Linked DNA regions of Homo sapiens. The protein of the gene in region 2 purifies or fractionates together with the protein of the main gene of each other region. This does not show direct contact. Each region holds a gene or a part of one and is shown on either strand. Other genes may lie near its edges. The genes, in order: POP1, EIF2S1 and STRN.

Evidence for each region.
Region 1: the proteins of EIF2S1 (region 2) and POP1 fractionate together in Homo sapiens (co-fractionation; one large-scale study listed by BioGRID). This does not show direct contact.
Region 3: the proteins of EIF2S1 (region 2) and STRN fractionate together in Homo sapiens (co-fractionation; one large-scale study listed by BioGRID). This does not show direct contact.

Annotation. Positions count from the first base shown.
Region 1 is NC_000008.11:98,123,665-98,127,317, forward strand, and holds part of POP1 (ribonucleases P/MRP protein subunit POP1), read left to right. Parts: intron 1-3,653. UniProt on the Homo sapiens protein: Component of ribonuclease P, a ribonucleoprotein complex that generates mature tRNA molecules by cleaving their 5'-ends. Also a component of the MRP ribonuclease complex, which cleaves pre-rRNA sequences.
Region 2 is NC_000014.9:67,373,818-67,377,470, reverse strand, and holds part of EIF2S1 (eukaryotic translation initiation factor 2 subunit 1), read right to left. Parts: intron 3,004-3,653; coding exon 2,924-3,003; intron 1,033-2,923; coding exon 881-1,032; intron 1-880. UniProt on the Homo sapiens protein: Member of the eIF2 complex that functions in the early steps of protein synthesis by forming a ternary complex with GTP and initiator tRNA. This complex binds to a 40S ribosomal subunit, followed by mRNA binding to form a 43S pre-initiation complex (43S PIC).
Region 3 is NC_000002.12:36,956,524-36,960,176, forward strand, and holds part of STRN (striatin), read right to left. Parts: intron 1-3,653. UniProt on the Homo sapiens protein: Calmodulin-binding scaffolding protein which is the center of the striatin-interacting phosphatase and kinase (STRIPAK) complexes.

The DNA.
Region 1 (3,653 bases), on a different chromosome or scaffold from region 2:
TACTTGGGAGGCTGAGGCAGGAGAATCGCTTGAACCTGGGAGGTGGAGGTTACAGTGAGCTGAGATCATGACACTGCACTCCAGCCTGAAGACAGAGTGAGACTGTGTCTCAAAAAAAAAAAAAAAGATACACATGATGCTCTCTCCACTCCCATTTTGATCAAATTGCTTTTGTCAGCTCTTTTGATAGTCATTATCTAAATAGTAAATGAGCTGAATTAAAAACAGATACAGTAGACCCTTATTATTTTTGAGTTTCCTATTTGCAAGTTTGCCTACTTGCCAAAGCTTATTTGTAACCCCAATATTAATACCCATGAAGCTTTGGCTATCATTTGTGGACATACATAGAGCAGGAAAAATTTGAGTTTCCCTGTGTTTACGTTCCCAGCCGAGCTTCCCAGCTGTCATGCAGAAATGGGCAGAGGATGGAGGCAGTATAAGGGCAGGGCAGTACAGTGCAGGAAGCTCCAGCTCTCCTGGGGTTTGAATCTCAGCCCTGGGGCAGCCTCATGCAGGTCACTTAGCATTTCTAGACTTCATTTTCTCTTTTGTAAAATAAAGGAAATAAACTCTACCAGGAGGAGTTGTTTTTTGGATTTAAGATTATAATATGGCCAGGGGCGGTGGCTCACACCTGTAATCCCAGCACTTTCAGAGGCTGAGGCGGGCGGATCACCTGAAGTCAGGAGTTCGAGACCAGAGTGGCCAACATGGCGAAACTCCGTCTCTACTAGAAATACAAAAATTAGCCAGACATGGTGGTGTGTGCCTGTAGTCCCTGCCACTTGGGAGGCTGAGGCAGGAGAATTGCTTGAACCGGGAGGTGGAGGTTGCAGTGAGCCAAGATCGTGCCACTGCACTCCAGCCTGGGTGACAGTGAGACTGTCCCAAAAAAAAGGAAAAAAAAAAAGATTATAATCTATGTGAGATGAAGATATGTATGTATCCCCACTAGGAGGAATGGTTCAGTATTCACTAATTCATTGACGTAATTCAGGGACGTATGAAACATGACTACTATAAATAATGAAAATTGGCTATGCATATTTTAGAGCTGGTATATTTTATTTCTACCTTAACATCAATGATTATTATACTTCTGTGTTTCCTAAGAGAAGTGCAGTATAGTCATCATATCTGTATTTCACTGGTGTGCTGATTTTAGAACCTTATGAAGTGATAGGAAGATCACAGTTGTTCATTAGGGCAGCGGTAGAAAGTGCTAATTTGGGAAGACAGCAAAAGCAAGTGTCCAAGGACTTGTTTGGAGTGCTTTAAAAAACTGCATTGGGTCTGATTAAGTAAATTTTAGAGTCAAGTTCATAAGGTCTAGATTCAGATCCTACAGTTGATGCCTACCATGCCATATGATAAGGCTTTCACATTTTTTTTATCTCATTTAAACCTCACAATGTTCTAAGATTTATAGTGGCTTAATAATTAACACCACAATTGAAATAAGCAGAAACACTATAAAATTCTCTACTGATCTCTCCCTTAATTTACAGACAGTTTTTTTTTTTTTTTTTTTTTTTTGAGGCAGAGTCTTGCTCTGTCACCCAGGCTGGAGTGCAATGGTGCGATCTCGGCTCACTGCAACCTCCACCTCCTGGGTTCAAGCGATTCTCCTGCCTCAGCCTCCTGAGTAGCTGAGACTACAGGCGTGTGCTGCCACTCTTGGCTAATTTTTGTATTTTTAGTAGAGACAGGGTTTCACCATATTGGCCATGCTGGTGTCAAACTCCTAACCTCAAGTGATCCACCTGCTTCGGCCTCCCAAAGTGCTGGGATTACAGGCGTGAGCCACTGTACCCGGCCACAGACAGATATTTAATGTTGTCTTATAGTCATAATGCCCAGACACTTGTATGGAAATGTTGCCTTTTTTTTGGAGATGGAGTCTTGCTCTGTTGCCTGGGCTGGAGTGCAGTGGTGCGATCTTGGCCCACTGCAACCTCTGCCTCCCGGGTTCAAGCAATTATCCTGCCTCAGCCTCCCGAGTAGCTGGGACTACAGTCACATGCTGCCACACCCAGCTAATTTTTTGTATTTAGTAGAGACGGGGTTTTACCATGTTGCCCAGGCTAGTCTTGAACTCCTGAGCTCAGGCAATCCACCCACCTTGGCCTCCCAAAGTGCTGGGATTACAGACATGAGCTACTGTGCCTGGCTGGAAATTTTGCTTTTTAAAGTTTTAAGACAGGATCCCACTCTGTCACCCATGCTGAAGGGTAATGGCACAATCGTGGCTCACTTCAACCTTGACCTCCTGGGCTCAGGTGATCCTCCCACCTCAGCTTCCCGAGTAACTGGGGCTACAAGCATGTGCCATTATGCCCAGCAAATTTTTTTTTTTTTTTTTGGTAGAGACAGGGTTTTGCCACGTTGACCAGTTAGTCTCAAACTCCTGGACTCAAGTGATCTGCCCACCTTGGCCTCTCAAAGTTCTGGGATTAGAGGTGTGAGCCACCACATCCATCCTGGAACTTTGCTTTTAGTTATTTATTTAGTATAGTGGCTCTCAATTTGAGTGTGGCAGAGAGTTAGGATAAAAGACTGTACACAATCATGTGGATTATAGTATTAAGGGAGTGTCGTTTGGGCTGCTGTAACAAAATACAGGTTGAGCATTCCTAATCCAAAAATCTGAAGTCTAAAATGCTCCAAAATCCAAAACTTTTTGAGCGCCGACATGACATGACAGGTGGAAAATTGCACATCCGACCTCATGTGATGGGTCACAGTCAGAATGAAGGCATATAACACACAGTTTATTCAGCATTCCCATGGGAAAAAAGATGTTCCCAGCCCCCTTCAGCTGTGATATAAATATTTCCAAGCACTCCCAGATTTCACCACGTAAGCACACCCACAAAGACAAATAAAATACATGTAATTTTTACTGTTAAATACTTACATGTGAGTAAGTGTAAGAAAGTGATTGCTTATCAGTAGCATATAGATTCAGAGTCAGGAAGGATGCTGATGCCAGCCAACCACAGATTGTCCACAGGGTGGCTGAGATAGTGGCACCTTTGCTTTCTGATGGTTCAAGTATACAATGTGCAAAAAGTTTCATGCACAAATTATTAAAAATATTGTATAAAATTACCTTCAGGCTGTGTATGATAAGGCGAAAGAAGTGTAATTGAATTTTGTCTTTAGACTTGTGTTCTATCCTCAAGATATCTCATTTTATATATATACGAATATTCCAAAATCCAAAAAAATTGGAATTTGATACACTTCTGGTCCCAGTTATTTCAGATGAGGGATACACAACCTGTATCTTACTGGGTAGCTTATAAATAACAAATGTATTTCTCACAGTTCTGAGGGCTGAAAAGTCCAAGATGAAGGAGCGGGCAGGTTTGGTGACTGGTGTGGGCCTGCCTTCTGGTTCATATACAGCACCTTTTCACTGGTTCTCACATGGTGGAAGGAGCGAGGGTCTCTGTGAGCACTCCTTTATAAGGATACTAATCTCATTCATGAAGGCTCTACCCTCATGACCTAATCGCCTCCTAAAGGCCCCACCTCCTAATACCATCACCTCGGGGGTTAGGATTTCAACACTGGAATTTTGGGGGACATAAGCATTCAGACCATAGCAGGGAGCTTAGATTTGAAATTCATGTTGCACCGTTTAT
Region 2 (3,653 bases):
TGAGCATACCAGCCAAGAGGCAGGGAGCAGGGATAGAGTGGTTTTCTGAGGAAGAACGTGGAAAAGCTCTAAAATAGCCACTACTGAAGAACTGACCAGGAGCAGAGAGAATGTGGAACAGCTGAGGCTGGAGACCATGAATATGCAGTGGACCAACCTGCAAGACTGATTTTTCCTAGTAGCACCCAGCAGTCTACAAGTACAGAGAAGGCAGGAACATTGATCCAAGGCTGGATGGATGGAAGGAAAAACAAGGCAAAAGCTCACAATAATGGCAACAAAGTCGTTAAAATGATGTATCATGGTGTGCCTATGTTGGATAAGAGAGAAAAGGCAGGAAATGGCGAAAAGACAGGGAGAAAAAAGGTTTGGAATCAGATCCTAACATACAGAATTAAGATGACAAATAATAGGACCAACTGGGAGCTAGATGAATAGGAGGCAGGGGCAAAAGAACAGAAAGTGTGAATTAAAGATTTTAGTGGCAGAGCAAATCCCGGTGATAGTAAGGCCCAGGCTAAGGCTACATGGAAGACTGGCTAAAGTGGTGTGGGCTGAAAGTCAAAGGAGAGTCAAAAGAGGTAGAGAAAACAAGAGGTTATAGTTTTTGGTGAGACATGCTCTTTAGTCCCATAGCCACTTAGGACAATAACTAGGAAAGGAAAATGTGTGAGATAAACCATATGGTTTATGAATCTACATAACTATGATACATAAAACTACACAGACTTGACCATATAGGATTGGCCCATTTACTGGCCAATACAAAATATTTTAATCTAAATTTGGCAAGTATTTTATACATGGATGCTATGCTGTTAAATATCAGGCCAAGAGTTGTGATATCAAGGTAGAAGGAGAGTCAAGAAGGTATTCTTACGAGACTGCATGCTTAAATGCATCATAGGCACCATATCCAGGTCTCTTGTACTTGTCATCAAAGACCCAGGCAGTCCTCTGGAATAGGCTTTCCAGCTGCTCATCCTTGGTGTATTCTAACACCTCAGCAACATGACGAAGAATGCTATAAACCTAGAAATAAAATGAAAAGCTCAACAATTCAAAGATAAGAGATTTATAAAAAATGTTTTTACATTTTAGTAAATAACATAATTTGGCTACAATAATTCCTTAACAATAAAAGATCTCCATAGGGAAATACTCACTTTAAGTGGGTATAAAAAGTAGAGATAGTATACAATTTAGGGTCCTAAGACCTGGATCAAGTCTTGACAGTAACACAGTATCTCTGAACTTGTTTCCTCCTCTGGAAAAAGAAGAAACTAGCATCTCTCCTTACTACAGAGTGCTCGCATAGATCAAATATATAGAAACCACACACTATAAATGGAAAACGGCTATACAAATACAAGTTGTTATTATTACTCCCTGAGGAGAGAATCACGATAAAAAAAATTTTTTTTCTGTCATCTTACCCACCTGCCAAACTTTTTCTTACCTCCTAAAATTAACAGGGTGTAGACAAAAAGTATTAAGGTCTTCATCATAGTTACACATAAAAATTGAGTGAGAAAAGGTACTGACACTGAATAACTCTTCCATTTTAACATCTCAATAAGATCTATTAACACACTCATTTTAACAATATCCTAAGGAGACAAAAAAATATGAAATTTTCCCAGAAAAGTGCTTCTCAAAAGTTAGTAGGACCTGAGAGTCTGTATTTCTAAAAAAACAGGTGATGTCAATGCTGCTAGTTTAGAGACTACATTCTAAGTGGTAAGGTCCTAGAGTTTATTAAGAAGATATTTTACTGACAGTGTTTTCAAATGTGTAAACCACACTGCATAACTGTAAATACATCAGTAAAACAAAGGAAATGATTTGGGTAACTGATGGCTTTTAGACCTTTATTTTCTCTCTTACTGGGATTAAGCAAGATTTTTTAAAATCTCTTCATTGAAACTTTTTTTTTTTTTTGATATTTTATCTTGAGGACAGAAACACTCATGGCAGAAAAGAACAGACACCAGAGAAGGGCAAAGAAAACAGAAGCAATACAAACAGTACCACTAAGAACTGAGGATAGGCTGGGCACACTGGCTTACGCCTGTAATCTCAAACATTCCGGGAGGCAGAGGCGAGAGGATCGCTTGAGCCCAGGAGGAGGTGGTTGCAGTAAGTTGAGATTGCGCCACTACACTCCAGTCTGGGAAAGACTTTGTGACACACACACACACACACACACACACACACACACACACACACACACACACAGAACTGAGGATGTAGAGGATGAAGGATAACTTAAACAGGACCTGAGAAAAGAGAAATACTGACAGAAGAAATTAAATGGCTATCTTTGCTTTGCTGCTGCTTACTGTGGATGACAAGCAGGAAGTAATAGCAAAAATAAGAATGCAAAAAGAAATAATCCTAACACGCTAGTGGAGGGGGAAAAAAACCAAAACTAGTAACAGGCCTCTGCCTTGCTTTCCTGGATTCACAGACATTTTATAAACCCCTGTTCATTCTTAACATATAACAGCTGGTTGTCTCCGTTACCCTCATCCCAGAACAGGGTTGAAAATCAAGAACTGTATTTTGGCCAAGTGCATTGGCTCACTTCTGTAATCCCAGCACTTTGGAGGGCTGAGGCTCAAGGATCACTTGAAGCTCAGGGTCTGAGACCAACCTGGACAAAATAGAAAGACCTCATTTCTATTTAAACAAACAAAAAAACCCCGTATTTTATGAGGCATTCCAACTGTAAACAAGTTAAAGCAGTTGAAGTCACCCACAGTTAATTTAACCTAAAACGGCTTCAAAACACTTCTAGTACTAATTTGAGAATATTAGATCATAAGCAATACTTTAAGGTAGTAGCAGTATGAAATTAAGATTTCAAATTATTTATTAAACACACAGATAGTGGACTAATTTGACTCAAAGATCAACTTACAGTTTTGGATTTTGTGAATTTGTCTTCACATTTGATTGCTTCCTCTGGAGAAACTCTTCTTTTTGACAAATCAATATATCCTGTACAAAAAAATTGTGAAAAAATCATCTCTGTCCAGATGCCACTGTACTATTGTAACCAGCTTTGAAGACCAAATTAAGTGTTTGATTGGCATACTTATAATTATTTCCTACTAAAATCCTATCAACAAAATACTGCATAAGTATTACAAGGCTGAGTATCCCTCATCAGAAATGCTTGGGACCAAAAGTGTTTTGGATTTCAGATTTTGGAATATTTGCAATGTATTTACTAGTTAGAGCATCCCGAATCTGAAAATCCAAAATCTGAAATGCTCCAATGAACATTTCCTTTGAGTGTCATGTTGGTGCTCAAAAGTTTCAGATTTTGGAGCATTTTGGATTTGGGGATAAGGGATACTCAATCTGTACAAGATGAGAGATTCTGAATTGTTTTCAGAAATAAATTTTTATTATCAGGTAATTATATATATTCCATTACCTTACTGGAGAGAACTAATAATTTTCAATTATCCAAATGAAAGGTAGTCAAATGCCTATCTTTCCCCTATTTCTTCCTTTTCCTTCTCCAGAATAGGAAAATTCACTAAGATGTTCATTTAGTTTAAGGAAAGAGGCTATCGTCACAGAAGACACACACACACACACACACACACACACACACTGAACAAATTAAAACTATCTAATCT
Region 3 (3,653 bases), on a different chromosome or scaffold from region 2:
ATTGAAACCTGGATGCTACACACATTAGCAAATCAAAAGTATAGCTGACATCAAGGAGATAGCAGGTGGGCAAAGGGGACTCTATCCAGATTATCTGAACTTTCAAACACCTTTCATTGACTGCATAGCAAAGGGTTTTGTTTGTTTTAAACTCTGCTTCAGTTATCAAGATTTTGGAGAAAAACTGTAGGTCTCCCTTTACCATTCAAAGAAAAGTAGATTTGAAATAAAGTTCAGGACTAAATAGGCACATCTCTTGATAAAGAAGTGCTGTCTGTCAACATTATTTCTCCCCCAAAAATTAGTAGGGCCATTCTTATTTGTCAGATTTTGAAAGTAAAATAAGAGAATTCAGTTTCCAGTTATGGTGCCCCACAACAATTCTTCTACTGAACGCAGCCAAAAATTCTGGACAAAATATTTTCACAATTTTCTTAAAAGCAACACAAAAATAGGAAGGAATTATCTGGCCAAAATAAAAGGGAAAATGGGAACCCAGTGAGGTAAAGGAACAAAAAGCCATTTTTGCCCTTAGGATATTGACCAATCACAACAAACAGCCTTGCAGGACTCAAGGAGCAAAAATCAAACACCCTACCCCTCCAGAGTGGACAGTCTAATAGGTGATATACCTCACATTTAGCTAGATCCCTAAAGGGCTTATGTCTTCAAAGCAAAGACAAAACAGAAGTATATTGGCCCTCAAATGTATTCACAACCAAAATTCACATCAGCTGGGTGGCCCAAACATCTTAAGTAATGCATTTACTTTAAAGTGATTCCAGGCCTGGCAGTGGCTCACGTCTGTAATTCCAGCACTTTGGGAGGCGGAGGCGGGCAGATCACTTGAGGCCAGGGGTTCAAGACAAGCCTGGCCAACATGGCAAAACCTCGTCTCTACTAAAAATACAAAAATTAGCCAGGCGTGGTGGTGCACACCTATAGTCCCAGCCACTCCGGAGGCTGAGGCACAAGAATCGCTGGAACCTGGAAGGCAGAGGTTGCAGTAAGCCAAGATCACACCACTGCACTCCAGCCTGGGTGACAGTAAGACCATCTCAAAAAATAAAAATAAAAAATAAAGTGGCCCCAGACTGGTAATAACTCTAGACATCTACCAGAAGGAAATGTAAAAAACAAAAAACAAACAAAAAAAAACCTTTCTGAAGAAGATACCTTTATTTGAGAGCTCAGATTAGTCTCATAGTTCTTCTTTTTGTCTTTTTTTTTTTTTTTTTTTTTTTTTTTTGAGGTGGAGTCTCTGTTGCCCAGGCTGGATTGCAGTGGTGCAATCTCGGCTCACTGCAACCTCTGCCTCCCAGGTTCAGGTGATTCTCCTGCCTCAGCCCCCCGAGTAGCTGGGATTACAGGCGCCCATCACGACGCCCAGCTAATTTTTTTTTTTTTTTTTTTTTTGAGACAGTCTCACTCTGTTGCCCAGGCTGGAGTACAGTGGCGCGATCTTGGCTCACTGCAAGCTCCGCCTCCTGGGTTCAAGTGATTCTCCTGCCTCAGCCTCCTGAGAAACTGGGATTACAAGCATGTGCCAACACACCTGGCTAATTTTTATATTTTTAGTAGAGACGGGGTTTCACCATGTTGGCCAAGCTGGTCTTGAACTCCGGACCTCAGGTGATCTGCCCGCCTCAGCCTCCCAAAGTGCTGGTATTACAAGCATGAGCCACCGTGCCTGTCTAGTCTCACAGTTTTTCAAGGACAGCAGGCGGCACACAAAGGTAAACTAAGGATACAAGGGAACACGTCGTCATGAACAAGAACCAGCAGAGACAACAGACCACACAAAGGCACCTCTAAGACCTCAGATAAAGGAAACGCAAAGACACTAACTAAAAAATAACTACTTACTATGTTTAAAGAATTAAAGATGACACTGAAAATACCTGCAGAGAACAGAACAATATTTTTTTAAGAAATGACCGAGCAGATTTGAAAAGAAACCAAAATGAACTTCAACAATAACCAAAACTAAAAATTCAGTGGATGGTTTTAACAAATCAGACTCAACTGAAGAGAAAATTAATGGAGTGGAAGATATGTCATTCACAGACTGGAAAATAAGTCAGAATAAATTATCGAGAATAAAGCATGGAGAGATAAAAAGATGGAAAATACAGAGCAGATAATGGAGAAGCCCTAAGATCATGTAATCAAAAACCCAAAAGGAGAAGAAAGGAAAATGCAATCGAGGACAAACCTAACAAGATAGCAACTGAGAAATCTGCAGAACTAATGAGAAGCCAATCCACAAATTCAAGGAGTCTAATGAAGTCCCAAACAAAATAAAAAGAAATATAGGCTGGGTGTGGTAGCTCACGCCTCTAATCCCAACACTTGGGAGGCTGAGGCGGGCGGATCACGAGGTCAGATAGAGACCATCCTAGCTGACACAGTGAAACCCCATCTCTACCAAAAATACAAAAAATTAGCAGGGCATGGTGGCGGGCGTCTGTAGTCCCAGCTACTCGGGAGGCTGAGGCAGGAGAATTGCTTGAACCCAGGAGGCGGAGGTTGCAGTGAGCCGAGATTGTGCCACTGCACTCCAGCCTGGGCGACACAGCTAGACTCCATCTCAAAAAAAGAAAAAGAAATCTATACTGTGACACATCATAATGAAACTACATAACACCAAAGACAGAGAAAATCTTAAATGCAACCAATAAAATAAGCTAGAAAGCAGTAAAACACAGTAAAATCTTTATGCCTGTTATCTAAAAAAAATAAATAAATAAGCATCAGTGTGGCTCTGCTTACCTCAGAAGGTTGTACAGTTTAAATGGTACAGTGTATCTGAAAGGGCTTTAAAGAAAACTGTAAAGAGTGCTGGCTGTAGCAGTACATATACTCAAATTGGAATGATACAGATGATTAGCCTGGCCCCTAGACAAAAAATATGAAAAAATAAAACTGTAAAGATATCTGGAGATGTAAGTGACAGCTTGTACAAAACCTATTTCATTCTTGGTCATTCAGCCTCCCTCTGAACCTCACTTTACCTAACTGAGCTGATTATTTCCAAAGTTCATTCCAGCTCAAAGATTACTCTGTCATTACATCTCAGTCAGAAGGAGGTGATTCAAATTATAATATTCTACTGCCTAAAAATAAAATGCTATCATCAGAAAGAACAATGGAAAAAGAAATTATATCCCAAATTCTATAAAAAGCCATCCATATAGGGAATACTAATAAAAGTGTTGAAATCACCAAACTTTTATAGATAATGTAAAAACAGAAAAAAACAACTAAAGCAGTGGTTCTCAATCCTTGCTGTATACTGGGGAGCTCAAAAAATACTAATGCTAGGGGTCCTCATTCCTAAGATTCTGATTTAATTGATCTGGGGTAGAGTCCAGGGAATTAGTATTCATTCCCTCTGATTATTCTAAGATTATAGCTAAGGTTGAGAAACACTGAACTGAAGAGACAAATAATAGGATACGTTTTAAAAGATTAAAGCCTCTATAACCTTTCTAAAATATAAAGATTATGAAATTATCAAGAATATGAGTAGAATGAAAAATGAACCTGCTGACAAAATTATACCATATGACAATGGAGTTCACCTGCTCCACATGTAAAGGAAGTGGCTTAAAGAGCCAAATAAAATGTAGGATTCATTTCATAATGTGGTT